Regions from separate parts of the Homo sapiens genome. Here region 2 is linked to region 1. Evidence: fine-mapped expression QTL. Tissue or cell type: tibial nerve. Region 1 holds a variant in brackets; the other region holds the start of a gene. All regions are shown on one strand. Distances are between the middles of the regions.

What was found. PIP is the estimated chance that this variant, and not a neighbour inherited with it, causes the effect.
Region 2: CASC18 starts here. The variant in region 1 is fine-mapped to the expression of CASC18 in tibial nerve (GTEx, PIP 0.98).

What each region holds. Positions count from the first base shown.
Region 1 is chr12:106,054,974-106,063,083 of GRCh38, reverse strand. No RefSeq gene overlaps it. Among named protein-coding and RNA genes, the nearest start is that of NUAK1, 80 kb to the left of the region's middle. The variant C/A (reference allele first, on the strand shown) is at 4,048.
Region 2 is chr12:105,699,828-105,707,937 of GRCh38, reverse strand. It overlaps CASC18 (cancer susceptibility 18), which reads right to left and starts at 3,735. Exons shown (of 5, transcript NR_110109.1): 1 at 3,682-3,735. LOC105369959 (a long non-coding RNA gene) reads left to right here. Exons shown (of 3, transcript XR_945309.3): 2 at 1,102-1,173; 3 at 2,372-2,822.

The DNA.
Region 1 (8,110 bases):
GATTGTGGAACCCACCTTGGCTTATCCCGTAGCTTCCAAATTTACATGTTCTCAGTCTTGGTTTCCAAAAGAGACTACTCACCAGGTTCCTTAGTTCTGAACTGGAGACGTCATCAAAGGCTAACACTCAGCCACGCTCTTTCTCCACATTTCAGTTTCCTGTGCCTGCCCTTTCCCTAGGCACTCCCCTCTATCCCAAGGGCAGGAAGTTGCTAATCTGATTGGGATTAATCAGAGTCCAAGATCAGTGGGTCACGATTTCCTAATGGGGAAGGCCACTCACGGCTCTGCCTAGAATGACAGTATCTTGAGTCCCATTTTGCCACTGTTTCTTGTGTAAATAGACCCTCCAGAAAGCTCTTGGAAGGAGAGGTGCATCATAGAGCAAGATTGAAGAGTTCCTGGATCCTGGCCATAATATCAGGTGACATCAAACCCTACCCTAGTATCAAACATTAGAGAGTGATGCTGTGCACAGAATAGTAGTGTTTTAGGATCCATGCCAGAAAAGTCTGACTTTCCAAAGAAATTACAACTTGCACCCCTTTTCTAGTTTACTGGAAGAACATCTGATGTAGCATTGTCACATTTAGCAAATAAAACTACAGAATGCCTAGTTACATTTGAACTTCACATATACTATGAATAATTTTTCAATATAAGTGTGTTCCAGACAATATTTGGGTCATGCTTATACTAAAAAAAAAAAAAAAAGAAATTCAAATTTAACTGAGCATACTGTATACTATCTGGCAACCTAACCTGATAGGGCTTAGTTGTCCAAATTGACCAGGTGCTGGGTGTGGTAGGAGGTTGGGGAATGGATGCTTATAATTGTGGCTTGCCAAATTAGAACACGTTGGTGCCTCTCAGGTTGGGCTGAGGTTGGAAGAATTCCAAGTTCAGTCTGGACTTGATAATTGCAATTAAGTTGCTACACCTTTTTGGAACTCAGCTTTCTCAGCTGTCTAATGGGTATATTAATTGCTCTCTTATCCAACTCTAACAGGGCTACGAAAAAGAAGGAATGAGAGAAATTCTATGAAGTCACCTTGAGTATAAAACTCAATATGAATGAGAAACAATAGTCCTTTCTTTGCAGGGCAATAGTCACTGACTTAAAATAGGACATTTAAAGGCCTGTGGGCTTTTAATTCTTGCTTCAACCCCTGCCACCACTAGCAAATGGGCAGTAAGTTGCAGTTAGAGGGGCTGTAGGTCATTTGTGGAGTACGTTTACTTAGAAGTGTGACCCTTGGAAAATACATAATTCTGTATCCAGGCAGAAAGAATAGCCTGTGCATGGCCTAGAGGCTGGACCAAATGTGACATAGTAAGGGTAGTGAAAAAATAGGGGTGACTGTAGTGGCAGCAGTTGACATGTTGACAACTGTTGTGGGGTTAATGGGCAGTGGTCACTTTAAGGAGGAAAGTTGAGAGAACTAACATGTATTTAACTTCTACGTAATGCCCACTCCATCTTTATTCAGTAGCAAATGGCAGAAATCCACTCAGACCATATTAAGTAATGATTAATTTACTGCTTCATGGAACCGAGAAGCCCAAGTGTGTGTCTCAGGCACAGTTGGATCCAGGAGTTCAAGGGATCTCATTGGCCTCTTTTTCACTCACTCTCCCTGGATGAGGCTTTATTCTTAGGCAGGCCCTCTCCACATGGCAGCAAGACAGCTCCTGGCCAAAGCAGGGTTATGACGCTTTTTTAGAGTGTGATCCTCAAACCAGAGAGGTTCTTAATGTCCTAGCATTTAGGGAACAAGGAAGGACTGTGATTGGCTTTGTTTGGGTCATGTGTCTCCTCCTGGCCCATCACAGAGTCTGGGTGGAGAAGTGCTCTGATTGGCCAGCCTGGATCATGTACGCACCTTGTGGTATATTTAAATGACACGGAATCACACAGAATGTGGGAGAACAGCTCCCCAAAGGAAGGAATGCAGAGCCAACGATGTTAGTTACACTTTTTGGGCCTCAATTTCCTCACCCATATAATAGCATTAAATAATCGCTAATTTTCAGAGTTATTGTGAAGATTAAATGAAATAAAGTTCCTAACGTGGTGCCTGGCACATAGTGGATTTTTAATTTATACAGATAATCTCAGGGAAGACAACAGTAGTAATACATTAGAGAGAAGATATATTTGTTAGGAAGATTTTAGATGTAAAATCAGCTATAATATCAGAAAATTCAGCTGAAATTGGCTTAAACACTACAAGGGCTTTATCAGCTCATACACCTGGAATTCTAGAGGTTGGGGAGTTTCCCAGTTACTTGGGTCTAGTGAAAGAAGTTACATACACACCCCCCACAATTACATATAGTAAGTTCTATGGAAGAAATGGATATGGTACAGAGATAGAGGAGTAAGGGTGGGAGCTACCTCCTGCAGAAAGAGCATTCAGGGAAGGCATCTCTGAAGAGGTGACTTTTGGGCAGAGATCTGAAGATGAAGACTAGTCATATGTAAAGTGAGCATTCTGGGCAGAAAGAACAGTATCTGCAAGGGCCCTGGGGTCTTCACATTAGAGCTTTACAGGATTAGTTTCTGGTTCCATTGGCATAGGACAGCCATGATCCAGGGAACGTGATGTTTTGTTAAACATGTGTGGCCACGTTCTAATATGGACTGAATGTGATCGTTTGTGACTTTGTGTACAGATGGCTGCTTCCTTCAACAGGTGGTCCCCAGACAAATATACATGGCTAGATGTGTAGTTTTAAATGAGAATTGTTTCCGCTGCAGAAATTCACTGCCAATTTATTGAAATTTATGGAGAGGATGTTTTTAATCTACAGAATCATGCAAAGTTTGGGGTATGGAAGTGGAACAGCAGCGTTGCTATATGAAGACCAGAAAGTGCAGACAAAGGGGTTTTCACGTCACAAGCCTTGTCTCCTCCTGGCACAACTGTCTGGTTCCAGTAGGGGGTTGCCTGGGAAATTTGCAATCAACTTTGTTGTAAAATCATGAGTTATTTTCATCCTGATGAAAAATTTACACAGCCCTTCTCTACCTGACTGGGAATATCCATTGTACCTCGACCAGCTGGTTCCCCATCCACTCCCTGTACTAGTGTTTGTTTGTGAATTAGTCTGGACATACTATGTTATGCTGAAGTAGCAGACAAACCCTGAAATGTCAATGGCTCAATATAATAAACAACAATTTCTCACTACCACTAAGTCCAGTACAGGGCTGTTCTCTTTTCATGTCACCTTCAAGCAGGTGCTCAAACATCTGAGCTTCTTCTATCCTGTGGTTCTGACATCTCCAGGTTCTTCATTGCTAGCTGTGCAAATGAAGGAAAGAGCAGAAGTCAGAACCTTTTAAAGATGAGGCCTAGATGTGGTGTGCATCATTTGTGCCCACCTCCCATTGGTCAGAACTCAGCCATCTGACCTCGACCTAATCATAGACAGTCCTCAAGTCTATAGTACTTAAAAAGTGAAAAGTAAAATGGAATCAGACGAACACTTAGCAATGTTTCTGCCACGGCTTATTTTTGCTTCCCGGGGGAACTCTCACCGTTAAGAAAAATAATTATTGTTAGTATTAACCAAGTGCTTACCCGGCAGCAGTCCGTATGCCTACCCTTTGCATATATTATCTCTTTGAATGTTCCTCATGTTCCTTTATCTCCATTTTTACAGATGAGGAAACACTTTTGGAAAAGTGCAGTAACTTGCCCAAGTCAACCAACTGTTAAATGTGCATCTGGATTCAAATATGGGCCTGGGTGACTGACTTTCAAGTCCAAGCTCTTAGTTGCTCTGTTGGGAATCAGGGATGATGATTCTGCAACTCAGTCTCCTCGACAGTAAGCCCAGCCTGTTGCCATCTCTGTTGATATAAACAGCATTTTCCTGCAGGAGCTGAGCAGATATCAGGAACAAAGACAGTTGCCCAAATCAATGCATTCTCCAAACAAACATGGAGAAGAGAGCAACTGTCCCCAATACCCCACTGATGTGAAATTCTAGAAGCTCCAGTCTCAGCAGATGGAATTAATAGAATGATTCATGTTTCTT[C/A]ACTACTCTACTGTGGGATGGGATGGAGGTGACTCCATCCTGAGCACCTGCAATGGCTCAGAATTCAGTAAAGGAGACAGCAGGCCTCCAGTGGCTGTCCAAAGCTGTGCATACACATATTCCAACAGGGCTCAATGTGGTCTCTTCTGTGTTGTGGTGCCTCAGGGGACCCTGCTTCTAGAGGACTGAGAGCTCAAAGCAACCTGGTTGGTGCCATATGGAAACACAGGATGCCAGGCTGTGTTGCATGGACCTGCCTGGGGTCAGGCACTGCAACAGCAGCTTCATCACATAAAAATCTGTGGGTCATCATGTCTTCAAAGCCCAGTACAGGGCGATGACGCTGGCATGGCCCCCAACCAGACTTCCAGAGAAACACCTCACTGTCAGTGAAATTCAGGGTTGGGGACAGTTCATTTTGGAGGCAGCTGGAGAAAAGGGACTCCAAAAAATAGCTAGCTTGAGAATGTTCTGCAAGTTGGAAGTTGTGAATCACTGAAGCTGAAAAACATCTGATTCAGCAGTGCCTAGGGCATTCCAGAAGTTTCAGCTGTCAGGCTTTGGAGTCCAGACAAAAGCATGTGTGTGGAGCAGAAAGCCAGATGCAGACCTCTTACCCCGTCCTGCTGGTCATCTCCAAAGGCATGGTTGTGGGTTCAATTGCTAGGAAGTACAGATGGTCCCTGGAAATGGGTTCTGCTTAGACTGGCTTCTTATAAACACGTGTAGCTGAGCACTATTTTGATGAAGGAGAGAGACATGGTGGCTGGGGTAAAGTTGCCTCCCATTTTAGAGAAACAACTTATAATCACATTCTCAGGTCCTTTGGGGATCTAGAGTGGTGGGATCATGTTGCCCATGAAGCTACGTTGGAGCTAATAGGAGTGCTCCCTGTTGAGAAGGAGATTTCAAAGTGAAGAAACAGATTGAAAGAGGTGAGTTATCCATCAAGTTTGCAGTGCAGTCATGGCATGTCAGTGCTTTGACTAGTTTCATCCAAGATTTTTCCTATTCTTGCACCAGAAGAGAAAGAAATACATTTATTTTTGTTTTAAGTTACCCAGTCTCAGATATTCAATTATAGCAACAGAAAATGGACTAAGATAGTCATTTTCATATTATTGAGTTCTAAGAGTTTTTTGTATATACTAGACACAGGGATTTTGTGAGATACATTTTTATAAATATTTCCCCAGTTGTTGAATTTGCCTTTTATTTTTGATTAATAGAGTGCTTTGAAAAGCAGAGGCTTTGAATTTAGATAAAGTCAATTTTATAAGTTTTTTAATGGTTAAGGTTTTTGTGTCCTATCTCAGAAATTTTTGCCTACATTCATGTTGCAAATATTTTCTTTATGTTGTCTTTTAAAAGCTTTATATTTAAGTTTTTGCATTTACGTGTATGATCTATTTTAAGGTAATTTTTGTTTACTATGTGGGGAAAGATTGAATTTTACTTATTTTTTTCTGTATGAGATGTTAGTTGTTGGAGTGCTATTTATTGAAAAGATCATTCTTTCTCTGTTAAATTGACATAGCACCCTTGTAAAAAAATTAACTATGGATGTGTGGGTCTATTTCTGACCCTGTATTCCTTCCCATTAACTGGTCAATCATTTTGCCAAAATCACACTGCCTTGATTGTTGTAGCTTTTAGTAACTTTTGAAATCATATAACTTTGTTCCTATTTTAAAAATTATTTTGGATATTTTGGGTCCTTTGCATTTCCAAATAAATTTTAGAATCAGTTGTTCATTTCAACAAAGCAGACTGCTAAGATTTTGATTGCAATTACAATAAATCTATAAATCATCTGGGGAGAACTGACATGTTAACAATACTAAGTCTCCCAACTCATGGACAGAGTGTATGTATTTATTTAGGCCTTCTTTTATTTCTCTCAGCACTAATTTTTATTTTCAGTACGCAGGAATTACACTGTTTTTGTTAAATTTATTCCTATGTATGTTATACTTTTGAACTATTATAAATGGAATTCTTTACAAATTTATTTTCCAAGTTTTTTTGTGGCTAGTATATAGAAATATAGTTGAATTTTATGAATTGGCTAAATTCACTTAGTAGTCCTACCTACTAGTTGTTTTTAAAGATCTAGTAGAATTTTCCATGTGGGTGGATTTTCCATTTTAGGTTCTCTGTGTATAAAATCTGTTCTACTTCTTCCTTTTTAATTTGTATGTTTGTATTTCTTTTCCTCGCCTCATTACAATACAACAAAACACACCTAGTGCTAGGATATCCAGTATCATGTTGAATAGACATAGACTGAGCAAATGTCTTTCCTCATTCTGAATTTAGTGAGAAATATTAAGTCTTTCACGATTATGTATAATGTTAGTTATAAATGTCTTCTACCAAGTCGAGGAAGTTTCTTTTCTTTTCGAAATGGAGTCTGGCTCTGTCGCCCAGGCTGGAGTGCAGTGGTGAGATCTTGGCTCACTGCAACCTCCACCTCCCGGGGTCAAACAATTCTCCTGCCTCAGCCTCCCAAGCAGCTGGGATTACACGGGCCCACCAATATGCCCAGCTAATTTTTGTATTTTTAGTAGAGATGGGGTTTCACCATGTTGGCCAGGCTGATCTCGAACTCCTGACCTCAGGTGATCCACCCACCTCTTGGCCTCCCAAAATGCTGGGATTACAGGCATGAGCCACTGTGCCTGGCCAGAAGTTTCTTTACATTCCTAGTTTGCTGAGAGATTTCTTTAAAGTTATAAATGGGTAAAGAAATTTGTTAAATATTTTTCTTAAGTTTATTAGGATAATTATGTTTTTTCTTCTTTACTATGTTAATATGGTGATTGTATTGAATGAATTTTGAATATTAAACCAACCTTGCCTTCCTGGGATAATTTTCACTTCATGTTGTATTGTTCTTTAAATATATTGCCAAATTTGTTTTGCTGATATTTTGTAAAAGATGTTCTTTTCATGCAAGACATTGGTTTATAGTTTCTCTCTCTCTCTCTTTAATGTCTTTGGTTTTGTCATCAGGGCAATGGTGACCTTAAACGGTGTTTGAAAATCTTGTCGTCCTTTCTATTGTCTGTAACTGTTTGTGTACAATTGGCATTATTTCTTCATTAAATATTTGATTTAGTATACCAGTGAAGGTATTTGGACCTGGAATTTCCTTTGTGGAAAGGTTTAATGTCATTATTTTTTATCCTTTCTTCTATTCAAGTATAGGCACCGAAAGCTGTATGGTTTTGTCTAATAATTGCTGAAGCATCCCACAAATATTGACATGGTGTGTTTTCATTTTCATTTGCTTCAAAATATTTTCAGATTTCCATGTTGATTTCTTCTTTTCATATTTACTTATAATCTTATGGTTGCTGTGTTTTCACTCTTTTGTGTTCCAAGTCTCCCTCTGGTATCAGTTTTCTTCCTCATGAAGAACTTCCATGAATATGTCTTCTTGTGAAGATCAATTAGTGACTTCTCTCAGCTTTTGTTTGTCTGAAAAAAAATCTTTATTTCAACTCTAAGTTTGAAAGATATTTTTTCCAGTTAGCAAAATTTACATGACATTTTACGTCTTTATCCCTCAAAGATATCAGTCCCCTGTCTTCCGGTTTGCATAGTTTCTGTTGAGACATCTGAGATAATTTTTCTCTTTGTTCTCTGGGTTTATCATGTCTGTTTTTCTGTGCAACTTTGCATATTTTTCGTTTATTACTTATTTCTTTAGCAATTGATTGTGATTTCTCTTGGTATGGTTTTCTATGTGTTTATCTTTCCTTGAGCTCATTGACCTTCTTGCATCTGTAAGTTTATAGATGTCATAAAAAATTTAGATTTTAAAATTGTCATTATAAATTCAATATTTTTTCTGTTCATCTTTCTCCTTCTGGAACTCCAGCAACGTATATGTTATACCGTTTGATATTGTCCTACAGCTCAGTGAGTCTCTGTTTATATTTTTCAGTCTTTTTCTTTTTCTTTGTGGCTCCTCTTGAAATTCTTTCATTTCTGAAAGTGCCATTTGGCGTGTGTGTGTGTATGGTGTGTGTCACACACACACACTATATACACTATG
Region 2 (8,110 bases), 360 kb after region 1:
GTGAAGGGAGAAAGCCAGAAACGGGTTTTAATATGGATGTGCAAAAAAGTTCAAGGAAAGACGAAGAGGAAAAGAAAGCAAGCCTTCCATGTTTATCTGCTCCATCTATTTCCTGCCTGTAATTTATGCCATAGGTTAATTCCCGGGAAGTAGGAAAAAGACTCACCTTGTACTACAGTTAAATCTTGTGGAGAATAAGTAAAATTCCAAACATATCCCAAAGTAATGTAAGAGCAGAGGCCTCTTATTTTGCAGAGGAAAGAGGCCTCCTAAAAATGCTGCACACAGATGTTTAAGCATCAGAGAGACATGGACTAGTAGATCCTTGGAGCGAAAAGGTGCAGAGAGAGAAATCGCCCAGTCCAGAGGAAGAACATGAACCCCGGAGTGGAGAGGAGTCCCTCCCAAATTTACAGGGCAAGTCAGCGGCAGAGCTGGTCTAGAAACTGCACCCCTGACTTCTAGCCCCTGCCTGATTCTGTGCGCCCATGTAAGCTCTAAAGGACGCCATTCACTATGTGGTCCCAGTCAAATCTTCTATGTGCTATGTACGATGGTTGACCCAAAAAGAATTGTCTCATCATTGCCCTTCCCCTCCCCTCTGCAAAACAAAACAAAACAAAAAAAAACCTTGTGGCTTTGTCCTTACTAGGCAACAATTTCATCACACTTTGTCATTTAGTAAGTATAAAACAGCCAGCCAACTTCTAAGGACAGAAATACACATCCCCGGTCTAATTCTTGCCTCTAGCCTTTCAAAGCTCAAGGCCTGGCTTTGGGGCAAGAGGGTCCACGTGTATATGTGTGTGTGCACGTGTGTGCATGTGTGTGGGTGTGTGTGGCAGGGGATAGAAAGCCCATCACATGTACCTGGAACACAGCTTTGATCCACATCTTTCTCAGCCCAGTAAAAAACTTGTAGCCACTAAAGCATCTGAGCACTGAAGCATCTTAACCACTAAAGCATGTGGGGCATTGTCATCTGACCCCACTGCCATAGGCCCCTTTTTACAGATGGCTGAATACTTTCTCAATGAGGCCATTGCACTTGCCCTGAGGGGGAGGACCTCTCATCACTCACCTGCTGCCATTCTTTTCCAGGGCCCAGAACAATCCCAGGGGCCTTAACTACAGACTCTAATTGGGCGCATCAGCATCACGAGTAGGACTCAAGTAAGAAAGGGGCATATTTATGTTTCTTATCGTGCGTCTACAGGGAGGGGCTGAAAAGGACTCAAAAGCCTATGAAAACTTGTATTGCAGATGGGGAGGAGGGATGAGGGTAGAAACAAAAAATAATATACAGCACTTTATCCAACCATTTTATAACAAGTTGAAATCAGGCTCCTTCCAGATTGAAATGGATCCTCCAGTCCCATAATTAAATTGGGAAAATGAAGCCATTTCATGCCTTTGGCTCCCTTTGATCATTGTTATTTCTGTGACTAATGTGTAACTGGAGCTGCTTTTTCTGGGGCATGAGCCTCGCCTGGGCAGCTGCTAGGAGAGTGTGGCCTGGTCTCCTGTTGTCAGCGCAAGCTGACGGCAAGGCCAGGGCTCAGCAAGGTCAGGTTAGTCTCAGCCAAAGTGGACTGGAAGAGATGCACCTGCGCTGACAAGCAGCTATCTGTTCCCATTTGCCTCTGACTGCATTTCTCCAGGGCCTCCCTTGTCCTGGAGAACTCTTGGGTGGGAACTGGTGTTTTTTCCCTTGAAAGGAAGAGATAGAGGACATTTCAAGAGATAGGAGCAGAACATTGCCTCTCAAATTGTAAAGAAGGTGACTTCTGAAGCTCATCATTTTAATTTTCCCTCCCCTTTGTCCCTCATCAACTTCTATTCCTGCATCCTCCCTAACCCCTCCATGCGTGCATCACACACACACATACACACACACATACACTCACACTCACACGCTGGGCACAGCAGGCATGCAAGCACAGTTGGGAATTCTGTGAGTCCTTCTAGACTAAGGAAACTCAAACTAAAAAGTAAAATCTATTAATAACAACTCCCTCCTCCCCATTTACTACGGAATTTGCTCTTGCGGATTCTCTAGAGCGCCCTCATGTGACGCCCTGTTGTAATAGCATTCAAGACTTTGGAAGGATATAAGGATCTGTTGAAACACTGTATCACCACAATTCAAAGTATCACTTTTCCGGATGAATAACGCCTAGTATTTGATAGCACAAAACGAGGACTGTAGTCAATAATAATTTAATTGTACATTTTTTTAAATGCCCAAATTATTTAAATTTCAGAAAGAGATGGGCCCTTCAGGGAGAGGAAGGCTCGGCTGTCTTAATCTCTGGGAGCCCTGTAGAAGAATGAGAAGACAAACAGCTGACTTTTTTCTAATTTTTAACAGCTACTTGTGGACCAAGGTGACACTTAGGAATCCCAAGAAGCTCCAGCCATAAAGGGAGTCGGTATCCTTCCTCCAATTGTAAACCCCAGCACTCCCACTGAACACACTGGCCATGCCAAAAGTTCACACATCGGCCACGCAAAGAGCTCAAAGAGATCCATTCAGTACCTGGGAAGGCACGATCACTACGGGGAGAATCAGAAACCACGCGATCGCCAGGTGGCCTTCAAAGAAGCCTCCTCCCAGAAGGTCCAGAATCCCATCCAGAGACATTTCTGTCACTCTTCTCAAGCCACCTCATCATCTCTCTCTGCAGTTGAACTGCTGATGTTTCTGAGATTGTGGGTTTGTTCAAAATGAAGCTTGGCAGAATCATAATTTATAGGCTAATATTTTGTAAGTAGAGACAATTCATGACTTAGAATCTTATGAATAAATTGCTCCTGTTTTATTGCTCTGTGTGTGTGTGTGTGTGGGTGTGGGTGTGGGTGTGGGTGTGTGTGCATATAACTTTTCTTTTTCCACGTTTACCTCTTGAGTGGGCCCATTAAACTGAGAAGTACTGCGTGAGGTCTTGAGATAGCACAAGCCTTCGCCACCCCTGTAAAGGTGTGACGTGTGTCTAGGCAAAACCCTGGCAGGTCTCCAGGCGGTCCTTCTGAGTTAGGGCTCTGAACACTCTCTCTTAAAGCCCTGAGCTATGAACACAGCTTTGAACGGGACAGAGAAAGACCAAGTCAGAGGGGGAGCAGCTGTGTCTTTCTCCTCTCTGCTTCATTATAGACAAAATTGACCTCTGGGCCAAGTCTCATTAACTAATTGAAGAGTTCATAGTCACACAGTGTTTCTCAAAACGAGATTCAGAGAACACGAGCATCAGAAACACCTGAAGTGTTTGTTGGAATTGCAGCTACCTGGGCCCCATTTGGTGCCTGTTGAATCAGAATCTGTGGTATAAGAACCTAAGATCTGCATTTCCAATACACTTATAAGTTGAGTGTCAAGCACAGTAAAGTTTGGGCAGCCCGTCCCTTAATCTTTTCACATCCCGTCAGATTACAGATTTATATTTTAACAAAAGCCTTTATTTCCATAAGCCAACAGGGGAACTTCAGATACTGCTGTGGGGCAGCAGGGGAGATGTTGTTAAGCAAAGGGAGAAGGGCTTCCAGCGCCTCTTGATTTTTTCTGCAGAGGTAGCTGCACATGCAGCTGGTCAGAGTTTACCTTCTATGTCCTACCCCTGTGAATGCACCCCAGAGCTGGAGCACGCATTGAGGTCAGGGGGGCGCCTACCTGGAAGGACCTACCTGGAAACTGGATATCCAGTGAGGAGAGGAGAAGGGGCTGTCAGAAAATCAGCTCACCTCTAGACGGCGGCAACTCAGATAAGAGGAGCTTGTACTTCCGGTCTCTCCTCCCTCATCCCTTTCTGGTTGGGAAATTTTGTTCAAGCTACCGCTGTATGCTTCTGTTTTCTCTGAAGAAAATGGAGACTAATATTTATGCCTGCCTCAATAAATACATTTTTATTATAATTAATTTTGAAAGGTCCTGAGATTGGTAGGAAGATCACGTCCTCAGAGGCAGGTGTTGTGAACAGTGGATATGAAGTTGCATGGAAAATCTTCCACATGCTCAGTCCATCCCCAAGGGAAAAGGAATGTCTGGTGGGAAGTGAAGAGCTCTGAGCCCCTGCCTTCTCTGCTGCAGCACCCACCATCTTCCTCTTCTATTCCAGCCATGCGAGGCTTTTTTCTATTCCTTGAACCCAACAAACATTGCTCGTCTTCAGCCAGGATTGGGAAGCACTGCTCAATCCACTGCTGTATATAAATCTAGCTCACGGGTTGGGACTTTTCAGGCAGGGAAAGGCTCATTAGGAAACTGAGGCTGATTTTGGATGTTTCCAGGTCAGGAAGGTTGTATGTGTAGGTTTTCTTCTGCATTGGGCACAGAACATTGGATGGTCATTCTCATTCCCATCTTTGGCAAGGGCTGGGATGAAGTATGTGCTGGTGGTTCCTGAGCTGCCTAGCAGAGACGTGGGCTTGGGGAGGAGGACATTTTCTTTCCAGCAGGTGCTCGAGAGGACTCAAAGAGGTGATGAATGGAGCAAACAGAGCCTGGACTCCATCCAGGTAGACAGGGCTTATACCCAAATCTGTCACTTACTAGTTGTATGATCTTGGTTAAGCCTTAGTTTCCTCCTCTATAAAATGACTCTAAATAGTAACACCTACCTCAGAGTTGTTATGAAGATTAACAGACATAAGGTGTGTAAACCAATTACACTGTGTCTAGTACACATGACTGCCCTGTTCATACTAACTATGGTGATTTGATGTTTGGGAGCCACGCTTTTTAGTCTTTAAGGTCTGTGTAATCTCGCTGTCTTGTTTTATTTTATATTTCCCCATTTATTCTCTATTCTCGCTCCTGTTTCCTCCCATTTCCCTCTCCTGTCTTCCTTCCTGGGATTTCTTATATGTCCTTAGATTATCTCCAAAAAACACAGAACTTGGTTTTGTGTGTATATTAAAGTTTAATATCCTTAAGTAGTAACGTGCTATAAATCGTTTACCACCTTTTGCACTCAACACTAAGATTTTTAGAGGTATCCATATTATGGTTTGCCAGTGGTTCTCAACTTCACTATGAAACAGAATCACTTGGGAGCTTTTGAAAAATTTCAATACCTGGACCTCCATTCCAGTTATTCTGATTTAATTTGTCTAGGGTGCGGGCCAAGCCTCAGGTCATTCTAAAGTGCAGCCAGGATTGAGAAGCACTGCTCAATCCACTGCTGTATATAAATCTAGCTCACAGGTTGGGACTTCTCAGGCAGGGAAAAGCCCGGGGTTCACCTTTTTCTGCCTCACCAAGTCTCTGCAGTAAAATCAGGTGATGACGACCCTAAGGACAGCGTTAAAAGGAAAAAGAAGAGAGGAGAAGGCAACTTGCAGCCTAAGGCATATGTAAGAAAGAGCAGAAATCAGAACTCCTACTCTGCCCTATTTGTCAGAGTCATGTTATTGATTCATCTGTTCGTCCATTTAATCACCCAGGATTTACTGAGCTCCTCAGACATTCTGCTAGGTGCAGGGAATACAGCAGTGAACAGGGTAGACAGTCTCAACACTCAGTGGCTTTCATACCTGTTAAAATAAAGCTTCTCAGGCCTCATGTCGAGAGCTTCTGACCCAGTAGGTACAGGGCTTGGCTCAGGAGTCTACATCTTGAAAAAGTGCAGCAGGTGATACCAATGCCTATGATCCTGGGAATCTTTTGTAGAAAATTGGTCTAGCCAATTTATGAGTCAGGTTGTTTTTAAGCATGCTTGATAAATTTAGCCCATTTCTCCCTTTTAGAATTTTTTTTGAAACAGCAGAACCCCTATTTACTATGTGTCTTCAGCAGCAACTACAGCCTTAGAACTCTCTTCCTCTGACTAGACATTCCTATACATGATACCACCAACAATTAATTCATTGTTGCTGGTGCACCCACATTATACAGTTGCTATAGAGTCATGGTCACATTTAAGCCCTACCAAAACTCTGCGAGGTAGGTCTCATCCTTCATATGAGAAAACTGAGGCTCATGTTGGTTAAGTGATTTTCCCAAGATTATACCTCCAGGAATTAACCACATGTCCCTCTGCTTCAAGACCTGGGCTTCTCGCCACCATATTGCATGAGGCTCCCTAGAAGGCCAGGACAGTCTTCACTCATCCTGTTATCTCTTGGAATACCCAACTACACTAACAGATGGCTATTCCAATCACAATCACTGAACCAGTTATTAGCTGGATGCTACATTCTTTCCATACACAAAGTATACAGAGGAATCCCTCTCATCTGGAGTTAACTGGCACTAGTAGCTGGTTGGCTCATTGGAAAAACGTAGCTCAATCTGGGAATCATTAAAAGGTGATGTATGTATACAGTAAGTATTTTATTTTAACCTGAAATATATAAATGTATATTCATGAGCCAGACCTCTAATGTGGAGCCAAAGGGTTTTTTAATTTTTTTCCACTTTAAGTTCTCTGATTGGAGTTTCAGTACTCTTTCTAACATAACCTATACCGATAATATATATTCTAGAACTTCTAATGTTTATTTTCTTAAAGTAGAGTAAAACATATTTGTACCTTCTAAATAAGCTAAGTACAAAATCCTATTAAAATACATAATTCAGGAATATATTAAAATTTTAAATATACAGATAAGTTGATAAAATGGCAAAATAAACACCAAATACCCACTGCCTAAATTAAACAACTGTTAACATTTTGTCGTATTTACCTTATTTCTCATGCTATTTTTAGAGCTGCATCTACATCCATTCATCTATCATCCATCTATACATTGTTTTTTTGCTAAATATTTGAAAATAAGTTGCAGATATCATGACACTTCACCCATAAATATGTCAGCAGGTACCTCCTGAGTATAAGAACACGCCTCTATATCATTTTCACACCCTGAAAAATAATGGTAACTTTAAAATAACATCTGATATTGAGCATTCAAATTTCCCCAACCGTCACAAGACTGTCTTTTAGAGGTGATTTTTTTCTCAATCAAGATTCAGTCTTGGTTCATGCATTGCATTTGATGTTATATTTTTTTGGCCCGCCATTTTTTTTTTTGACAGTGACTTTTGGAAGAGTTCAGACCATTTTGTAATATTCTGGATTGAACTGTTTTCTCATGGTACATGTTTCTCTTTACCCTGTGATATAGTTTGGATATCTGTCCCTTCAAAATCTCATGTCAACATTTGATCCCCAACACTGGAGGTGGAACCTAGTAAGAGGTGTTTGTGTCATGGAGGTGGATCCCTTATGTATAACTTGGTGCTGTCATTGCAGTAATGAGTGAGTTCTCACTATATTAGTTCTCATGAGATCTGATTGTTAAAAAGAGTCTGTCACCTCTTCCCTCTTCTAATCTTGGCAGAAGGTGCAGAGGGAGCTTGTCACATGGCTCCCTCTCTTGTTATGTGACATGCCTGCTCCCTCTGCACCTTCTGCCATGACTAGAAGATTCCTGAAGCCCTCACCAGAATCAGTTGCTGGCACCATGCTTCTTATATAGCCTGCAGAACTGTGAGCCAAATAAACCTCTTTTCTTTATAAACTACCCAGCCTCGGGTATTCCTTTATAGCAACACAATGGTCTAAGACACCCTGAATTCACTGTAAACTGGATTAAGGTTATAAGCTTCAGTAGATTCAGCTTGAATATTTAGGACAGAATTCTTCACTGGGAATGCTGTGTACTTCATATGGCATTACATCTTCTGCAGGTATTTCTGGCAAATAAATATAAGCATTTATCTTAAGTACGTACTTGGAAATGAAATTTCTGAGTCATAGCATATACAAATGTAGTTTTTTCAAGTGGTCATATCAGTTTTCACCCTTCAAATTCATCCTACAAACAGAGTTCCAGTGGCTCCACATCTTCACCAACATTTGAAATTGTCAGTCTAATAAGTTTGTAATGGTATTGGATTATGATTTCAATTTGTCTTTCCCTGATGACCTCGAGCTTATTGTGTGCTTATGGTTTAATTAGATGTAAAGTGCTTAATTATTTTGCTCAGTTTTAAACTGGCATGTCTATCTTTTTAAATAAGTGATTTGTAAGATTAAACATGAGTCTGATTGTTGGTTATATATACTTAAAACATCTCCAACTAGGTGGTTTGCATTTTCACACGCCAAAT